Regions from separate parts of the Homo sapiens genome. Here regions 1, 2 and 3 are each reported to be linked to region 4. Evidence: microRNA targets listed by miRTarBase, many of them from high-throughput screens and not tested one by one. Region 4 holds a microRNA gene; each other region holds the end of a gene's coding sequence.

Region 1 (4,263 bases), not on the chromosome of region 4:
AACCATAGGTCATTGTAACATCCCTTCTCCACAATAAAAATGGAAACTTATTTTGTGGAAATCATTTTATGTAAATATGTATTTAATACTTATTTCATCTTTCTTACCTTTCAGAATTACCATGAAATTATGACTCGTCATCCTGAGAATTATCAATGGGAAAACTGGAGTCTAGAAAATGTTGCTACCATTTTAGCCCACCGGTTCCCCAATAGTTATATTTGGGTGATAAAATGTTCCCGAATGCATTTGCACAAATTCAGCTGCTATGACAATTTTGTGAAAAGTAACATGTTTGGTGCCCCAGAACACAATACTGACTTTGGAGCTTTTAAGCACCTTTATATGTTATTAGTTAATGCTTTTAATTTAAGTCAGAATAGTTTATCAAAGAAAAGTTTGAATGTTTGGAATAAGGACTCCATAGCATCTAACTGTAGATCCAGTCCTTCTCATACTACGAATGGTTGCCAGGGAGAAAAAGTGAGGACCTGTGAAAAATCTGATGAGTCTGCCATGAGTTTTTATCCACCATCACTAAATGACGCATCTTTTACTTTGATTGGATTCAGTAAAGGTTGTGTTGTTTTGAATCAGTTGCTTTTTGAATTGAAAGAAGCCAAGAAAGACAAGAACATAGATGCTTTTATCAAAAGCATAAGAACAATGTATTGGCTGGATGGTGGTCATTCTGGAGGAAGCAATACTTGGGTTACTTATCCAGAAGTCTTGAAAGAATTTGCACAAACAGGAATTATCGTTCACACTCATGTAACACCTTACCAAGTACGTGATCCAATGAGATCTTGGATTGGAAAGGAGCACAAGAAATTTGTTCAGATACTTGGGGATCTTGGTATGCAGGTGACTAGCCAAATTCATTTTACAAAGGAAGCTCCTTCCATAGAGAATCACTTCAGGGTTCATGAAGTATTTTGAGATTACAGGTATATTAATGAACTTGTTCAGTGGAAGAACATAAGCACTTTTGAGTGTTATAAATTCAGATAATGGGATGTAATTCATAGCTGCATTGTCAGTTTTGGGGTATGGGGGGAAGCACACATTCCTAAAATGTGAGTGTAATGTGCAATAGTATTTTTTGCTTGTGAATGTGAGCAGTTATTAATTTGGATTGAGTTAGAATTAGTTAATTTGAAATCTAACAAGGTGGTTTGTAATAATGCTGAGGAGATATAAGACCCTTAAAATGAAAGTTACAACATTGTTCTTATAAAAGGTAACTAAAATTGTTACTGTTGGAAATAACTGATTTTCTGAGTAATGTTTTAAACTAATTTGGTGACATTTTAACAGTAATTAGCTATTTTGAGTGGAAATATTTTCATTTCTCTTCAAACAAAAGCAAAGGTACGATGCTGTTTTCTATCATTTTGGAATAACTGCACCCTGCCTTTTGTGTTTTTGTAAACTCCTTGACTCATTCTTTCATGTGTCACCAAGTACTTTTCTCATGAGAGTCAACATATATTTGTTTCCAAATGTCCACAAGTGTACAATAGTGTAAAGGTGGTTTTTAAAAACATAGCCAGGTGTGGTGGCACGTGCCTTTAGTTCCAGCTACTCAGGAGGCTAAGGCAGGAGGATTGCTTGAGCCCAGGCTGTGTGGTTCACCATAATTGTGTTTGTGACTAGCTACTGCACTCCAACCTGGGCAACATAGTGGGACTTCATCTCTAAAACAAAACAAAACAAAATTACACTTAAGCACTATTGTTTAATTTTTAATTGTCAGTTTATCATTATTTTGGGTAAGACATTCTGGGGTTTCTTGAATCTTGTCCAAAAACCAGTTGTTTTGGAAAATTGCTTTAAATTGAGCATATTTATGTATATTGGATAAAAATGTACTACAGAGCAAATTTCAAATTTTTCATTATATCAGTCTTTTTGAAAGGATCAACTTGGATAAAATAAATATATAATGCTCTATTTGTTAGAGCTCTATTAAAAAGGAAACAGATTCCATAGATCTAAGTCAATGTTTCTCCAGAAGCATGATTTTGTCTGCCAAAAGAAAATAGCTCTCTTTGGCCAAAATGCAAAATTACATTGCTATAAGAAAAGTTACAAGGGAAAGTTTGAAGACACAAATGATTTAATTTTGGCTCAAAAACTGAATTTGCTTAACACTGCTACATAATTTGGGTGAAGTTTCCTTCTGCCCGTTTTTCTTGACCTAGATAAATACACTTTGAGAAATCCAGATCTAATAAATGTCAACCAACATTGACATTGTAATTGGGTGATTACAATAAAAGGTGAGCAGTTTGTTGTTTATTAATAATTAGCTTTTGCAGGTAATGAAATAGCAGGGAAGTAACATGCTGCTTTAGGACTAAAAAAAAAAAAAAAAAAAAGACACTGAAGCTTAATACCTTAATGACCCAGAAGACCTAGATTTATAAAGCCATATAGAATAAAAATGTTAATTTCTTGGTTTCTTCCCAGAATTATATTTTAATGACTCCATAAATACATTCCAAATATTCAGAGATTCATGAGAAAGGATTCTTAACAAATGTTTAAAAATAACATTTCTTTTTGGTGTTTTAACACTTAATTTTATAAACTGCAGAACAGCATCTCTAAATGGCTTTTTTTTTTTTTTTAAAGACAAAGTAGTATTATGTTGCTTCAGTTTCTTTAAATACCTCGTTTCTTTTGAGACCAAAAATTCCCATCAAGGAAATAAATCAGCCTGATTTTAACATTTTACATATTACATTGCCTTTAAGCACTATGATTGGATGGCTTTTTTTCTATTTGTTTAATAATCCTTGGCTAAATTCACATGTATCTAAAGGAAAATAGCTGAGTTACTGAATTCTATAAGGGGAAGAAAAAGCATTTATTTTCACATGATTAACTGAAATGGAAAAGTAAGACATTTAGCAGAATAATTCATTTAAAAATAATTTTAAAAAATCAGACATATTTAAAAATCTAGGTTGTCTATCCAGTATGTGAATGCTTAATTATAATTGTTACATGTTGAATGGGTATTAAGAGTAAGTCACCAGGTACACAAAACTGCCATCATAGCAAAATGAGACAGTGTTGAAAAGACAAAATATTTTCTGGAATGAAAATATATTCAAGTTGATCCATATTCAGATGTTTTCTGTTTAATACTTCAGATTGGTCCTTTGTCCACATTTGTTTAAAACTTATTGTAATGTTAATTTACACTTTTGGATTGTGCCTTTGTCATGAGTTGAGAAAAGTAGTCCTACAAATAATGTGAAAGTTGTTACCACCACAGCATGAATGTATAATTGTATTAAAATTGATCATCCACAGAAGTTTGTTTGGATGTGCTTTATATTTATTAGCATTGTTAAAACTTCAGATTATTTATAAAGGAAGCCATTTCTCCACCCTGCTAAGTTGGGTTTGTATACAGTAAGTCCTCACTTAACATATCAGTAGGTTCTTGGAAACTGAGACTTGAAGCAAACTGATATAACAAAACCAATTTTTTTCTCATCATTGTTTTAACTAGATGACAACGAACAAAACGTTGAGGACCTGCTGTTTGTCCTTTTGTTTAAAGTCACAGATTCTAAGAACCTATGCACATTAAGTGAGGACTTACTGTGCATCTTTTCATTATCTTCCATGTCTTTTCAAATGAGCAACTTTGAACCTTTTTTGTACAAATACATACCTTCTCCCTTTAAAATTGCTCCATAAAAATTTGCACTATATCCACTTCTTTTATTGGATTTCATAGAGAACAAAACCTCTAACAAGTTCATCCTTTTCTCTTTTCTGTGCTAATCATCTCAGGGATTTGTAGTCCTTTAGCTTCTTACAAGACTTGGTTAGGGTATGGTGTAATCTATTTTTCATTTCATTCATGTACTATCTAAGTAACCACCAAGGTCAAGGAGGGTCTAGGCAATGAGGATATAGGACAGACAATACAAAGTCCCAGCATGTTGGTATAGAAATGTTTAATACATTAAATCTTATGAGGTAAAATACAAAAGGTAGTATTCATAAAAGAGCTATTTTGTTTTATTTCACTTGAAGTTCTTAAGAGAAAAACATAAGAGGAGATATAGACAGACCTCATCTGTAAACTCATGTTGCTCTTTACAAAGGAAGAGACCCAGCAGCTTTTAAGCCAGTTAGTGGTAGAGACAGGCAAGAGTCACCAAAAAAGGTCATTTTAGTATTCTGTTTAATGGAACTTAGAAAGAGACTACATCGTGGGGTTGGGGGAGGGGGAAGGGA
Region 2 (4,263 bases), not on the chromosome of region 4:
ATTTGACAGTAGAGATACATAAACAATTCATATTCAGTAAGATAAAATGTATCAGTCCACAAAACATTTTCATCTTTTTAAGTATAAAAGAATCAATGTTCAACCACCACCATGTGTGAAGCCCCTTTTTCCAAATTAAACTTACTCTAGAATCATGAATTGAAGATTATTCAGTCATGGCACTTTACACCCCAAACGAGCAAAAGTAACAAGTTAATACCCTCCCTGAGTATTTACATCATCTTATCACCTGGTTTAAATGGAGTAAATACCTATATTTCAATCATCTAGGAAATAAAAAGGTTACTGAAGATCCAATACACTAGTATTTCATACCTGTGCAGTAAAGTCAGTGGGAAGATTACAGTAGAAAAGGAGGAAGTTCTACTGTTGTAAAAATTAGACCACTTTTGTAGCTGACTCACATAGAGGAAAAACAGAAAATGATTAAAGTTCATGAAAAAAAAACTATACTTTTCTGTTCTACAAAGCATACCTTTGAATTCCCTTTCCAACTGAGGTATCACAGCTGGGTTTAGCAAACTCATCTCTTCTGACCTTGTAAAACTAAATTGTCATAAAGATTCTGATTATACATAAGTCATCGTTACTAATACTCATCATGTACTTTCAAATGTAAAAAGTTCTAGAAATGCCCAAATAAAAAAAAATTCCAGAATTGAATTTAGCATGGTCAACTAATTTTTACTTTATGTGCTTTTTTGCTGATCATCACAGACTGCTAAAATTCATGGTGTTTGGTATATATGTGTGTATACAACCATACTATCTACATACATACACATGTACATATATAGATTCTAAACCAAAGGTTCATATGAGCATCACCTATCAAAAGAAAAATCTTTATGTGATGAGAGAATGAATACAATCTGACACCAATTTGGTTGATATACCCCTTTTGATATATTAATTCTACTCTAAAATTCTTTTTTATTTTATCAAGTCTAATGCTATTATTTATCAAGAATTAGTAAAGGAAGATAAATATTAAAAAATTAAAATATTAAGTTGGGTAACTTTAAAAATAGTTATTTAAATTTTCTAAGATTCAACCTAAGTTCTTGGTGGCCTTCAATATAAATTTTAAGTACTTAATTTATGTAGTTTTAAATTATGTAGAGAAAAAATTAATATTGGTGTGAGGTCTGTGTTTAAAAAAATTCTGTTTTTCAGGATTTCATTTCAAATTTACTATAATAAACACATGGATATTAAAATAAATGTATAACAAAATAAAAGTAAATAGTTAATACTTTTTACAACAGAAAAATACTAGAATATAAAGTTGTCTTGAGAAAGTCTTTTTTTATGTGAAGTCCTATATTCATGAAATGGACATGATCTTACAAATACACATGAAAATAACAACTATCATTTGTAGAATCCTCAGCATTTACAAAATACTTTTTCACACATTATCTCATTTACTGTAAAGAATTTCTTAACTAAATAATTCTATTATCTATAAGAGTATAATGCAGATGTTTACTCTAAAATTAAAGTACAAGTATCCAAACTGTACCTACATTCTTTCAACTAAGAGGATAGAAAATTGTTTTCTGAATTGTTGTTATCACAAAATGGTATCTATCATTTTAAAATTATGATTTGAAAAATAAAAATTCCCTAAAAATTTTTAAGTTTTTTAGAGTTTTCCTCAGAATGTAGATTCTAGCTAAGCATTAAAGTTTAAAAAATGTCTATCTGAAATCTCTGAATCATTCTAAAATGAGAAAACAATGTAGCTTACCAATGTTAGGCTTTTTATTTCAACCTTGGTTTTAACAGAAATCTGGTGACACTTTAATTACATATTTGCATCATCCCTTCTATCACAAGAAATATACAAATTATAATGTGAAAGACAACAGTGACTGGAAGTCAAACTACAGCAGGCTACCTAGAACATCCCTAAATGTTGTAAATTATATCCGTCCACCCAGAATCACAATAATCACTTATGCTGTAGTTCCTGCCATATCCATTTATTTGCATTAGAAAAAAAATTCACATTCCTCTCTGAAAACTGATAAGCTTTATAAAGTGGAGTTGAGAAATCTAGACAAAAGCAGTCTGTTGTACAGAAGCTTGAAAATGTTGATTAGTATTTTACACAATGGGGACCAAATGAAAGACTTACCTTAAAGATGGGAACTACTGCTAAGTTTTTTCAGATAACTAATTTTAAAAGAAAAATGGACCCACTGAGATAGGTGGTCCCTGCTTTATCCTATTAAAGGTACCTTAACAGTAGAGACTCTCAGGAATTTTAGCTGTTCACTAGAAAGTGGGATAATCAAGGAAGAGGTCCTCACCCAAAGCACCATACTAATGAGGTCAAACTCTACTGGGCTAGGAAGGAAAACCTATCCCTATTTTTCTTTTTCTTTTCTCTTGAGACAGTGTCGCAACCTGTTGCCCAGGCTAGGGTGCCGTGTGCGTTCATAGCTCACTGTAGCCTCAGACTCCTGGGCTCAAGCAATCCTCCTGCCCCAGCCTGCTGAGTAGTTGGGAGTACAGGTGTGAGTCTCTGTACCTGGCTGTCTGTCCCTGTTTTTCACAAAACAATATTGCAAAATGGGTTTCCACTGCTTTATCAAGTTAAGAAAAGAGGCTTTCTTAGAGGATTGAAGAGATGATGCATAAAAACTTTGAGAGCCATAGTGGGTCATTTTTCCTTCAAAGGCCATTCCATTTTTCTCTTAGGAATTAACTTGTAATTTTAATCCCCCTTGTAGGGGCACTTATTTTTCTATCTCCTACCTAACTTCCCCCTAAAAACATGTTTAATGTAAGACAGCAATTCTAAGAATAAAGTCACAATAGTTCAGTATTTTATGATGCCTGAATTGTTGTCATTACATTTTTATCAATTACAGAAAAAAACCCTTCAATAAAATTAACCAATCTGGATATACTTTGTTAACAACAAAGGTTTTTAAAACTGATTTTTTCTCCTAGAATGCATCCTAAGCATTAACTTCTTCAACCTAAATGATGCCTCAAGTCATGCAATTTTCTCTACATATATGACAAAATAAGGAATATACATACAGATAAACATACATAATAAGTGAAGACACCATTCACACGCTCCTAAAAGGTATGCAGACAGACATTTCCTAATTCACATAGACTTCTTACAAATACTTACAAAGGTACACTCTTCAAAGGCCAAGTAACAACCACCATTACCTTTAACAAAAAAGTTTTTTTTTTCAATTATAGGAAAGGCTTTATTATAGTTTGAAAGATTGATATTTTGAGGAGAAAGGCACCAAATTATTATTTTTACTATTTTTTGCATATGGCACAAAGGAGATATGTGAAGTTCCCACTGTAGAGTTTTTAAAACCTCCCATCTTGGATCAGTGTGGCTTCTTCGGTGAGGTATCCTGTCTTCAGAGTTTAAAGCATTTCTCATTGTATCTATGAATAGTCACACAGCCATGATAGGACACTGGCCTGGGCATTGCAGCTACCCCTGTGATGATACTTGTTGCAGGATCATAACAGAGAATAGTGTCTGTGGCTTCTCCATTTTCCCGTCTTCCGCCCAGGATATATATTTTACCATTACACACAGACATACCACAGTTTTCCTGTTTAACCAAATATATAAACAAAAAATTAACCATTGAAGATAAAGGATTTGGTAACAAACAGAAAAGCAAAATAATGCTTTAGCACAGTCAAAAAAAAGGGAGACATGATAAAAGCTAAGGTCCTTTGGCCCAACTCTGCTCTCTGTGTTCTGTGTAAGCGCTGGACAACTTTGCATGAATGAAATGAATTTCAAGATAGATGCTATGTCAGTAGCAGCCACAAGAAATAACGAGATCATGTCCTTTGTAGGGACGTGGATGGAGCTGGAGGCCATTACCCTTAGCAAACTTACACAGGAACAGAAAACCAAATACTGCATGTTCTCACTTATAAGTGGGAGCCAAATGATGACAACACAGGGACACATAGAGGGGAACAACACACACACGGGCCTTTCAGAAGGTGCAGAGTTGGGGGAGGAAGAGGATCAGGAAAATTAATGGGTACTAGGGCTTAAGAACTGAATGATGAAACAATCTGTACAACAAACCCCCATGACACAGTGTACCTATGTAACAAACCTGCACTTGTGCCCCTGAACTTAAAATAAAAGTTAAAAAAAAAAAAGATTATATGTTAGTAATTGGGGCCAAGATGTGGGAGGTAGGATGTGGACTGATAAAAGGGTTTTAA
Region 3 (4,263 bases), not on the chromosome of region 4:
TCAGCTCACTGCAACCTCTACCTCCCAGGTTCAAGCAATTCTCCTGCCTCAATCTCTCGAGTGGCTGGGACCACAGGCGCATGCCACCATGCCTGGCTAATTTTTTTATTTTTAGTAGAGACGGTGTTTCACCATGTTGGCCTGGTTGGACTTGAACTCCTGACCTCAAGGGATCCACCCGCCTGGGCCTCCCAAAGTGCTGGGATTACAGGTTTATATAAGCCACAGTGCCCAGCCAGGGTTTTTCATATTGTGAGAGCCATTTTTCTTTTTACTTGCTACACAAAGCATTTGCATTGTAGGGCGAGACGACCAATTTAAAGAGATTCAGTTAAAAAAAAAAAAAGCTGTGACAAACTCTAGGTGCCTTCCCATTAGCCCCACCCGCACCTCTTGGTATCCAATCCTTCGTATGAGCCTCTCCCCTTGGATATGGGCAGGACCTGAAAAGACCCCTCTTGCTGGCAGCTTGGCTCTCGACACTTGCTGGTAGTGACAGTAATCATGTCAGTGGTCCAGTCAGCAGCCAGGCCATGCAGGGAGCACCCAGCTGGCAAGGAACTAAGCGGGGGCCTCCAGCTGACAACCAGTGAGAGGTCTGGACACTCAGTCCTGCAGTGGCAAGAACTGAATTCTGCCAGCCGAGTGAGGCTGAAATGAGTTCTTCCCAAATCACCAGGTGAGAATGCAGATGAGACCATGAGCTTTCTAAAGGACCTATCTAAACCATGCTCAGACAGAAACTGAGACGCATTTGTTTTAAGCCACTAAATCTATGGTAATTTAGGACATAGCAATAGATAATACTGGTACTATCAACTTCCTTAGTTACCTTGTTAATTTCATAGTAACTGTATTAGGTGGCATCCAGACTATCCCAAATTTAAATACTAACAGTAGTATAAAAAGTCTGGCCCTTTATTACCTTTCCCAGGTAATAAAACAACTGGTTTCTAAAAGTTTGATATGGATTACACCTCTTAGGATTCCTCATAATCCTGTGAAGTAGATATTCCCATTAATTATTTAACTCAAATGACTAACAAGGGGCAGAGCTAGGAACTTGAGAACCAGCATCCAACCCCTGATGCCACCACCCTTCCAACTTTTATAGTTTCCCTAAAGTCTCAATGATGCTTCCCACTATGCCCATAGATAGTAATAAAACCACAGACAGTAAAAAGTACTGGGAACATTTTGTTCTTCCTTTTAAATCCATCTTATCCACTAGATTAATAATTGTGCACATCAGTTAAAATGTCTTTTATTCCAAAGTCTATGTCTCAGTGAAGAGGAATTTATTCCCTTCATGGCTTGTTATTAATACTAAGCACTTAAACTGAGTATATGTGAAAGCCAAAAACATTATTCTTACTGAAGACCTGTCAAACAAAGCCACAAAACAGCTCCTTTTATTTTCTAGTAAGACTAGATTTATTCAATACCCTAGTAAAAGTTTTGATTATAAGTATCCAACAGTATAAAAAGTACAAAACAGATCTGTAGATTTCTAATATATTAATACAAAGTGCATGACTACATACAGTACATCCTACAGGCAAAGAGAGGTGGAAGGGGAAAAAGAAGACTGTGGTTGAGGTCTAGTAATAAATAAATAAATACAGAAGTAGAGATGATCCATATTATAGTATATTCTACCACCAATACTGCAGCCAAAATGTACAAAAAAAATCATTTCAAATAACTCAGGAGGATGATAATGGCTGGACTTTTGTAATTCACCTCAAAGACTGTGGGAGAGCCAACTCAACTCACTGTATAGTCTGTGCATATGGTGGCTTGTAGCATGTAGGTTTTTTCCAAAAGAAGGAAATATAAAATGTTTAGATTAAGAACTATAAAACTACAGGGTGCCTATAAAAGGTGGCTTACTCCTTATTGTTATTATACTATCCAATTTTTAAAATGCAGTTTAAAAAATAAGCACTGAGTCTTGTTATTACAAGGCAGGCAAATGTTTCTCCCTCATTTTGAAAAGACTGAACTGGCAATGCTTTTCCTGAACATTTAGAAAAGAGGCAGTAAGAGTACTCTGGTTTGGGTTCAAGTGAGAGGCTTTTCATGAAAATCTTAGGATTGAAGAGCTCTAAGTTCAGGATATCTCAATGTTCAGAAAGCCTGACTAAAAGAAGCCAAACCAAAACCATTTAATGTGAACACAAACCTCTTTTCTTTTAGTAAGTTTTACTTTTAATACAGAGTGAAAGAAAATAAAAATTTAATAGGCTAAAACAAGTCAAACACCCATTCTACACAGATAAAAACCTTCACAAAGGTCAACTGAAGTAATCCAGAGCTGAAACTGAATTGTGCAGATTTTCAATGAAGTCACAGAAGTCATGTAACACAAACAAAAGTCGATTATATTTACACACTCAGCAAGCCCTCTAAGAAATGTGCCCCAAGAAGCATTAACCTTTGTTTTGTGCCATCCTGAAGACTTGCACATTTTATTTTTCAGATAGCTTAACATTTTTAATCGAGTGTGTTCTCTACCATGCGGTAATGCTTTGGTACTATTCATACAGGGTCTTGCCTATCCTAAAGACTTGCCATTTCCCCAAGAGGAGCTTTGATTCTGCTTTAGAAGTTTTACATAAATTAAAATCTTTATCAAATATTAATATGAAGGGAGGCACAGGATGCAACATATATAGTCAAGTTACCTCTCTGTATATTTAGAAATTACTTTCTCCTCCAAGGTATTTGCAACAGAAAGCTCAGTCTGTCCTGCTTAATAATCAGTAGTACAGGTGTGAATCATCAGAAGCTTGGCAAGACCTTAATATTTCAAAATTATTAACAACTACCTCTAGGGGCAAGTTCATGTTACTGAGTTATGACAAATTTATTATCATGAGGGAAAACAAGAGTAGCCAGCCATCTTAAAAATGCCCCAACCACTGCTTCTCAAAACAGAAAGACTAAAAACTACATACAGTTTATCATACAACAAATCCCATCTCTGTCCCCTGAAATTCCCCTAGTTTCATTCATTAGAAGGGGATTAAAAAAAAAAAAGACTTAAAGAGCACTTTACAGCAGCATTCAGCTTTCCTATGAAATACTCAGCATCTTAAATATTATATACAACTCTTTTTTTAGTAAGCTAGACACTGGCTTCAGAGTTTGTGGGAGTGGGGGAAATCAACCCATTCAAAACTACTCTAGAAATTGTCTTTTGGCAGAATAGCAGGTATCCAAGTTAAAAATAAGAGGGTCATTTAAGACCAGCCTGGCCAACGTGGTGAAACCCCGTCTCTACTAAAACTAAAAAATTAGCCGGGTCTGGTGGCGGGCACCTATAAACCCAGCTACTTGGGAGGCTGAGGCAGGAGAATCACTTGAACCCGGGAGACGGAAGTTGCAGTGAGCCAAGATCACGCCACTGCACTCCAGCCTGGGTAACAAGAGCAAAACTCCGTCTCAAAAAAAAAAGAGGGTCAGTTTGTAGCTTTGTGGTTTTTCAAAATTCAGATATTTTTTTTTTTGTTCCCCTTCTACATAAAAACCTCAGTCACCACTCCTGAGTGGAGATGGGCAGAGGCTCTGGCCCCTGCTCCTCTGGCTTCTCAGCAGCTGCTTTCTTATTGCTGCAGCAAGGCTTGAAGAGATGTGTGTCAATGAGGACTTCCCCAAAACGGCCTTTATAGATGATCCCACAACATATCTTCTGTCTAAAAGAAAAAATGGAGAACAAGATACATTAATAAGGAAGAAAAATAGGAATACAAAAGAAATCTACTCACTATTATAACTAGTCCAATATAACCAAAGAGTTGTGCTTCTACAATCTTGCACATTCCAAGTGAAAGGGCTCCTAGAGTAACCCCAATTAGCTAGAGAAGGGGAATTACCCAGTTGCCTTAAAGGCCACACTGGAATCTTCTCAAATATTGAGGAAGACGGCATTTTGAAAGACAGCAGTCAGTTTCAAAGGCTGCCCCTGATGTTGTTAACTATTTCCTCCAAAATCACCAACTCTTGAAAAAAAAATCAGCCACCATAAACAGGCTGATGCAGCTAGCAATTTTTTATATATATTTAATTTTTTTTCTTTATCAACTCCTAAGTGCTTGAGTGGTAATTTTTAATTAAATACTGAGTAGATAAAAATACATGTGTGGGCCGGGTGTGGTGGCTTACACCTGTAATCCCAGCAGTTTGGGAGGCTGAGGTGGGCAGATAACTTGAGGTCAGGAGTTCGAGATCAGCCTGGCCAACATGGCGAAACCCCATCTC
Region 4 (4,578 bases):
TGACAGTGTCTTCTGGCCGATTCCTCCTGGGCCCTCCGAGCTGGGCTGGGGCTGCCACCTGCCCTCCTGGGTGTGGAGCAGGACCTGGTGATCCTGTGCCTCCTGCTTTCAGCCTCGCCTGATGTCCCCTTTCAGAGATGCCTGAAAGGCTCTCCCTGTAGCTCCGGTAGCCTCCTCTGGTTGGCCTCACCGGTGCCCATTCGTCCATCATCTGTCCATCTGCCTCCAGCCCTCAGACTTTGCCATGGCCCTCTGCCTTTCACTGTCTTGGCACTGGACCATTGTATTCCTCCTCCTGCTCCTCCTTCTTCTTCTCCTCCTCCTCCTCCTTCTTCTTCTCCTCCTCCTCCTTCTTCTCCTCCTCCTCCCCCTCCCCCCTCCCCCTCCCCCTCCCCGTCCCCCTCCTCCTCCTCCCCCTCCTTCTCCTCCCCCTCCTCCTCCTCCTCCTCCAATTCTTGTTCTTCTTCTTCTTCTTCTTCCTCTTCCTCTTCCTCTTCCTCTTCCTCTTCTTCTTCTTCTTCTTCTTCTTCTTCTTTTTCTTCTAAATGGAGACAGGGTCTCACCATGTTGCCCAGGCTGGCCTTGAATTCCTGGCCTTGAACAATCCTTTTGTCTCGGCCTCCCAAAGAGCTGGGATTACAGGTGTGAGCCACTACACCCGGCCATGCCTTCTATCTTCTTTCTCTACTTTCAACACTTAAATATTTTTAGCCAGGTTTCAGCAGGAAATGGATGGACATGAGGGCTCTGTCTGCCTGTTGGACCAGAAGCCCTTGCATCTGATCTAAACAAACCCCTTCTTGCCTTTGTTAGGGTTTCTGCTTGGTTTTATTCACAAAATTGACGTCTCAACTCTAATATTTATGTTCTTGTCACAGACAACTGTGATAGACTAATCAGTTACCTAATTGTCCTAAACCCAATCTTTTAATAAAATCTGGTTTCTTAGGACCTGGAGCGACAGGTTTGCGAGAAAGCTCCTCCCTGGATGAGGCCAAGAGCGTGGGAGTGAGTTCCAGGCTCCCAGAAGTGGGAAGTATTTTGGAAGTATTTTGGATTTAGGCGGTAAAGAATTCCCTATAAAAATAGCTGAACAGATTGGCCTCATATCACTGTGGGACTTTCTTGGAACATGAGGTGAGGTTATGGGTTGGCTTGCAAATAAAACCAAACACATTTCCCAATGAGGGAATGGGGCTGTGGTTAGGATGGGATCCGTGGGGGTTCTGGGGTGCTGGCAGGGCTCTGCTTGTGATCTGGTTACATAGCTATTTGCTTTATAATCATTTAGTAAATGTGTGATTTGTGAATTCTTCTGCATATGTTTTATTTCACAATAAAATGTCAACTTTTTTTTAACAACTAAGCAAAGTTAAGAACAATGCAGTGTAATTTCCTCGGAAATACGCTTTGACAGTTATTTAATTGGGCAAGTGGAAAATTACTTTTTATGAAGATGGTTTCTGCATATCATGAAAATGCCGTGTGCTGAACCATGCAGTAAGTGAAAGCGTCTAGATAAGGGCAGCCATTTGTTCTTCCCGATAAGGCACTCTCTACTGTTTTCTCTGGAATCAAACTGGCACGCCTGATGACTGGTGTTTTTATAAATCAGTGAGTATTTACATGTCTCAAACAGGCAAGTTTAAAACCACAAAGTCAGGGGCATGTTAAAAATTTGACTTCGGGTCTTAACGATCCACTGATCTTTTCATTTCTTCATTTTGGGTCCGGCTGCTTTGCATGAGGATGTTTTTCTCCCGTCTCTTATTGCCTGGCTTACAGGAGAGTTGGGTGATAGGAACACAAGGAGCAGAGAACGCACTGGCCTCTGACAGCCGCTCTGTGCAGATTCAGTCCTTCAGCCACCCGCAGGAATTGCCGCCAGAGTAGGACATGTCTTCTACCCTCTTGGAAGTGATGAAACCACCTTTCAGAAATTACAGCAGTGAGAAAACTATGACGTTGAAAGATACCTGATCTAACCAACCCCCATCCTGCCTTTGACCTCCAAACTGTCTTTCATCACTCCTAGGCCTGGGCCAAACTAATTTTGGAAGATATTTATAGTTTAAACGATAATAGCCCTTCTCCCGAACTGAACTGCCTGTGTAAAGCTAATGAAAGGCCAGTAGGTTAGGAGGATGAGAGGAGCCTGGATTCTGCTAAAATATAGATGTAAACGACGACCAGCCATTACTCTGGAGGTCACAAGATTTGCAGCTTCTGCAGATAAACATCACTATTGTAGAACCTAAGATTGGCCGTTTGAGATGTCCTTTCAAGTTTTTGCATTTCTGATGTCCGACTGATCCTGTGGCCCCACTCAGAAGCGGACTCCCTGGCCTGCTAAACTACCCTTGAAATACAGTAGCCTCCAAATTTTCAGGGAAATTGATTTAAGTAATGGTCAGGCCTCTGAGCCCAAGCCAAGCCATCGCATCCCCTGTGACTTGCACGTATATGCCCAGATGGCCTGAAGTAACTGAAGAATCACAAAAGAAGTGAATATGCCCTGCCCCACCTTAACTGATGACATTCCACCACAAAAGAAGTGTAAATGGCTGGTCCTTGCCTTAAGTGATGACATTACTTTGTGAAAGTCCTTTTCCTGGCTCATCCTGGCTCAAAAAGCTCCCCCACTGAGCATCTTGCGACCCCCACTCCTGCCCGCCAGAGAACAAACCCCCTTTGTCTGTAATTTTCCTTTACCTACGCAAATCCTATAAAACGGTCCCACCCTTATCTCCCTTCGCTGACTCTCTTTTCGGACTCAGCCCGCCTGCACCCAGGTGAAATAAACAGCCATTTTGCTCACACAAAGCCTGTTTGGTGGTCTCTTCACACGGACGCGCATGAAAGGAATAACTCCATCTCCCACGTGGCGTGGCTGGCCTCGTGTCAGTTAAACTTTCTTTATTGCAACACCATGGTTTCAGTGAATTGGTTTTCTCTGTGCAGTGGGCAGGAGTTTTAATTTCTTAATTTTGTAGCCAGCCTTCAGGCGGTGACAGTGATTGGACAATCACTTTAGTAGCATGAGATACTGAGGCTACTGCACTCGGATGGAATGGGCAGGAAACATGACTTGAATGCACCATGGACTCTACACCAGCATCTGTCCCCTGCAAAAGGGGCTCTGGGAACTAGAACAGTCATTCCCACCTTCTGAGCGCATTAGATCACTGCAGGGAGCATTGGAACGTGCTTTCCTGGGCCGCTCTGGGCCCAGGCTCCCATGTGAGCATCCGTTTTAAACCAAAAATAAAATTCCGAAAACCAAAAGCCCCCCATCCAACTGAATGGACCCCTACTCTTGGCCAAGAGGATTCCAAACAAACCTGAAAAACAAGTCAGGCCGGACGGGAAGGGGAGGGTCTGATACGCCTCATTGTATCCTCTCCCTTTGGGGTCAGGAACAGCCGATGGCATTAACATTAACACAGAGACCTTCGGACTGACCAGACAGGCTCTGGAAGTGATAGGAACAAGGCCTAGGGTGCAGGAGGAGCCTCGAGGGCTCAGCTGGGCTAGCCTGGGTGGAGGGGCCACAAGAAACCCCTGAAATGACAGAGGTCAAGTTTCATGGCCAGAAAGACTGGAGTCAGAGTGAGGAAGGGGGATGCAGTGGCCAGCCTTTGCTGGGAGCTGCCTCTGTGGCCACACCCAAAACTCCTCCCCCTGCATCGGCCACTCCAGTCCTTACGGTGGAACCACAGGCTCTTGTGAAAGGAAGATAAATCTCGAGACCCCAAGTCACTAAGCCAAAGGGAAGAATCAAGCTGGGAACTGCATCAGGGAATCCCGCCTCCCATTTTACTTAAAACTGCAGATGCAGGCTGGGCATAGTTGTTCACACCTGTAAGACCAGCACTTTAGGAAACTGAGGCAGGAGGATTGCTTGAGTCCAGGAGTTTGAGACCATCCTGGGCCATGTAGCCAGGCCCTGTCTCTAAAAAATAAGAAAAAAATGCAGATTCACTAAGCCAGACTAAGGCAAGAGTGACTGTTCCTCTACCCCCCTTTCACATGTAAATTGTGTATTTGGTGAAAGAAGGGCTAATCCCAGACTCAAAAGAATGCAACTGTTTGTCTCTTATCTGCCTGTGACCTGGAAGCCCCCACTTTGAGTTGTCCCATCTTTCCAGACCAAACCAATGTGCATCTTACACCTACTGATTGATGTCTCACGTCTCCCTAAAATGTATAAAACCAAGCTGTGCCCCGACCACCCTGGGCACATGTGGTCAGGACCTCCTGAGGCTGTGTCACGGGCTCATCCTTAACCTTGGCAAGTAATATGGTTAGCCTTGTGTCCCCACCCAAATCTCATCTTGAATTGCAGTCCCCAGGGACACAGCTGGCCGGAGGTGACTGGATCATGGGGGCGGTTCTCCCCATGCTGTTCTCGCGATAGTGAATAACTCTCACGAGATCTGATTTTTTTTTTTTTTTTTTTGCGACAGAGTTTTGTTGCCAAGGCTGGAGTGCAGTGGCGTGATCTTGGCTCACTGCAACCTCCACCTCCCGGGTTCAAGCGATTCTCCTGCCTCAGCCTCCCGAGTAGCTGGGATTACA

What was found. Region 4 holds the annotated microRNA hsa-miR-3674 (AUUGUAGAACCUAAGAUUGGCC, at 2,245-2,266, shown strand). A microRNA usually pairs through its seed, bases 2 to 8, with sites in the 3' UTR of a target mRNA and lowers its output. Matches are read on the target gene's strand: a 7mer-m8 pairs with bases 2 to 8, a 7mer-A1 pairs with bases 2 to 7 and ends in A, and an 8mer does both.
Region 1: miRTarBase lists C2orf69 as a target of hsa-miR-3674. Seed matches in the 3' UTR shown: 7mer-A1 at 3,254-3,260.
Region 2: the mRNA of KLHL24 is a reported target of hsa-miR-3674. Seed matches in the 3' UTR shown: 8mer at 1,399-1,406 and 7mer-A1 at 410-416.
Region 3: miRTarBase lists SINHCAF as a target of hsa-miR-3674. Seed matches in the 3' UTR shown: 7mer-A1 at 3,469-3,475.

Annotation. Positions count from the first base shown.
Region 1 is chr2:199,924,948-199,929,210 of GRCh38, forward strand. It overlaps C2orf69 (chromosome 2 open reading frame 69), which reads left to right. Exons shown (of 2, transcript NM_153689.6): 2 at 115-3,326. The coding sequence ends at 939. TYW5 (tRNA-yW synthesizing protein 5) reads right to left here. Exons shown (of 8, transcript NM_001039693.3): 8 at 3,966-4,263. Among named protein-coding and RNA genes, the nearest start is that of C2orf69, 16 kb to the left of the region's middle.
Region 2 is chr3:183,678,449-183,682,711 of GRCh38, reverse strand. KLHL24 (kelch like family member 24) reads right to left here. Exons shown (of 8, transcript NM_017644.3): 8 at 1-3,626. The coding sequence ends at 3,426. Among named protein-coding and RNA genes, the nearest start is that of YEATS2, 17 kb to the left of the region's middle.
Region 3 is chr12:31,279,174-31,283,436 of GRCh38, forward strand. SINHCAF (SIN3-HDAC complex associated factor) reads right to left here. Exons shown (of 6, transcript NM_001135812.2): 6 at 1,411-3,698. The coding sequence ends at 3,539. Among named protein-coding and RNA genes, the nearest start is that of FLJ13224, 43 kb to the right of the region's middle. RefSeq lists a silencer at 1-76.
Region 4 is chr8:1,798,889-1,803,466 of GRCh38, forward strand. It overlaps MIR3674 (microRNA 3674), which reads left to right and starts at 2,237; the gene lies at 2,237-2,304. RefSeq lists enhancers at 1,168-2,367, 2,201-2,862, 3,523-4,183.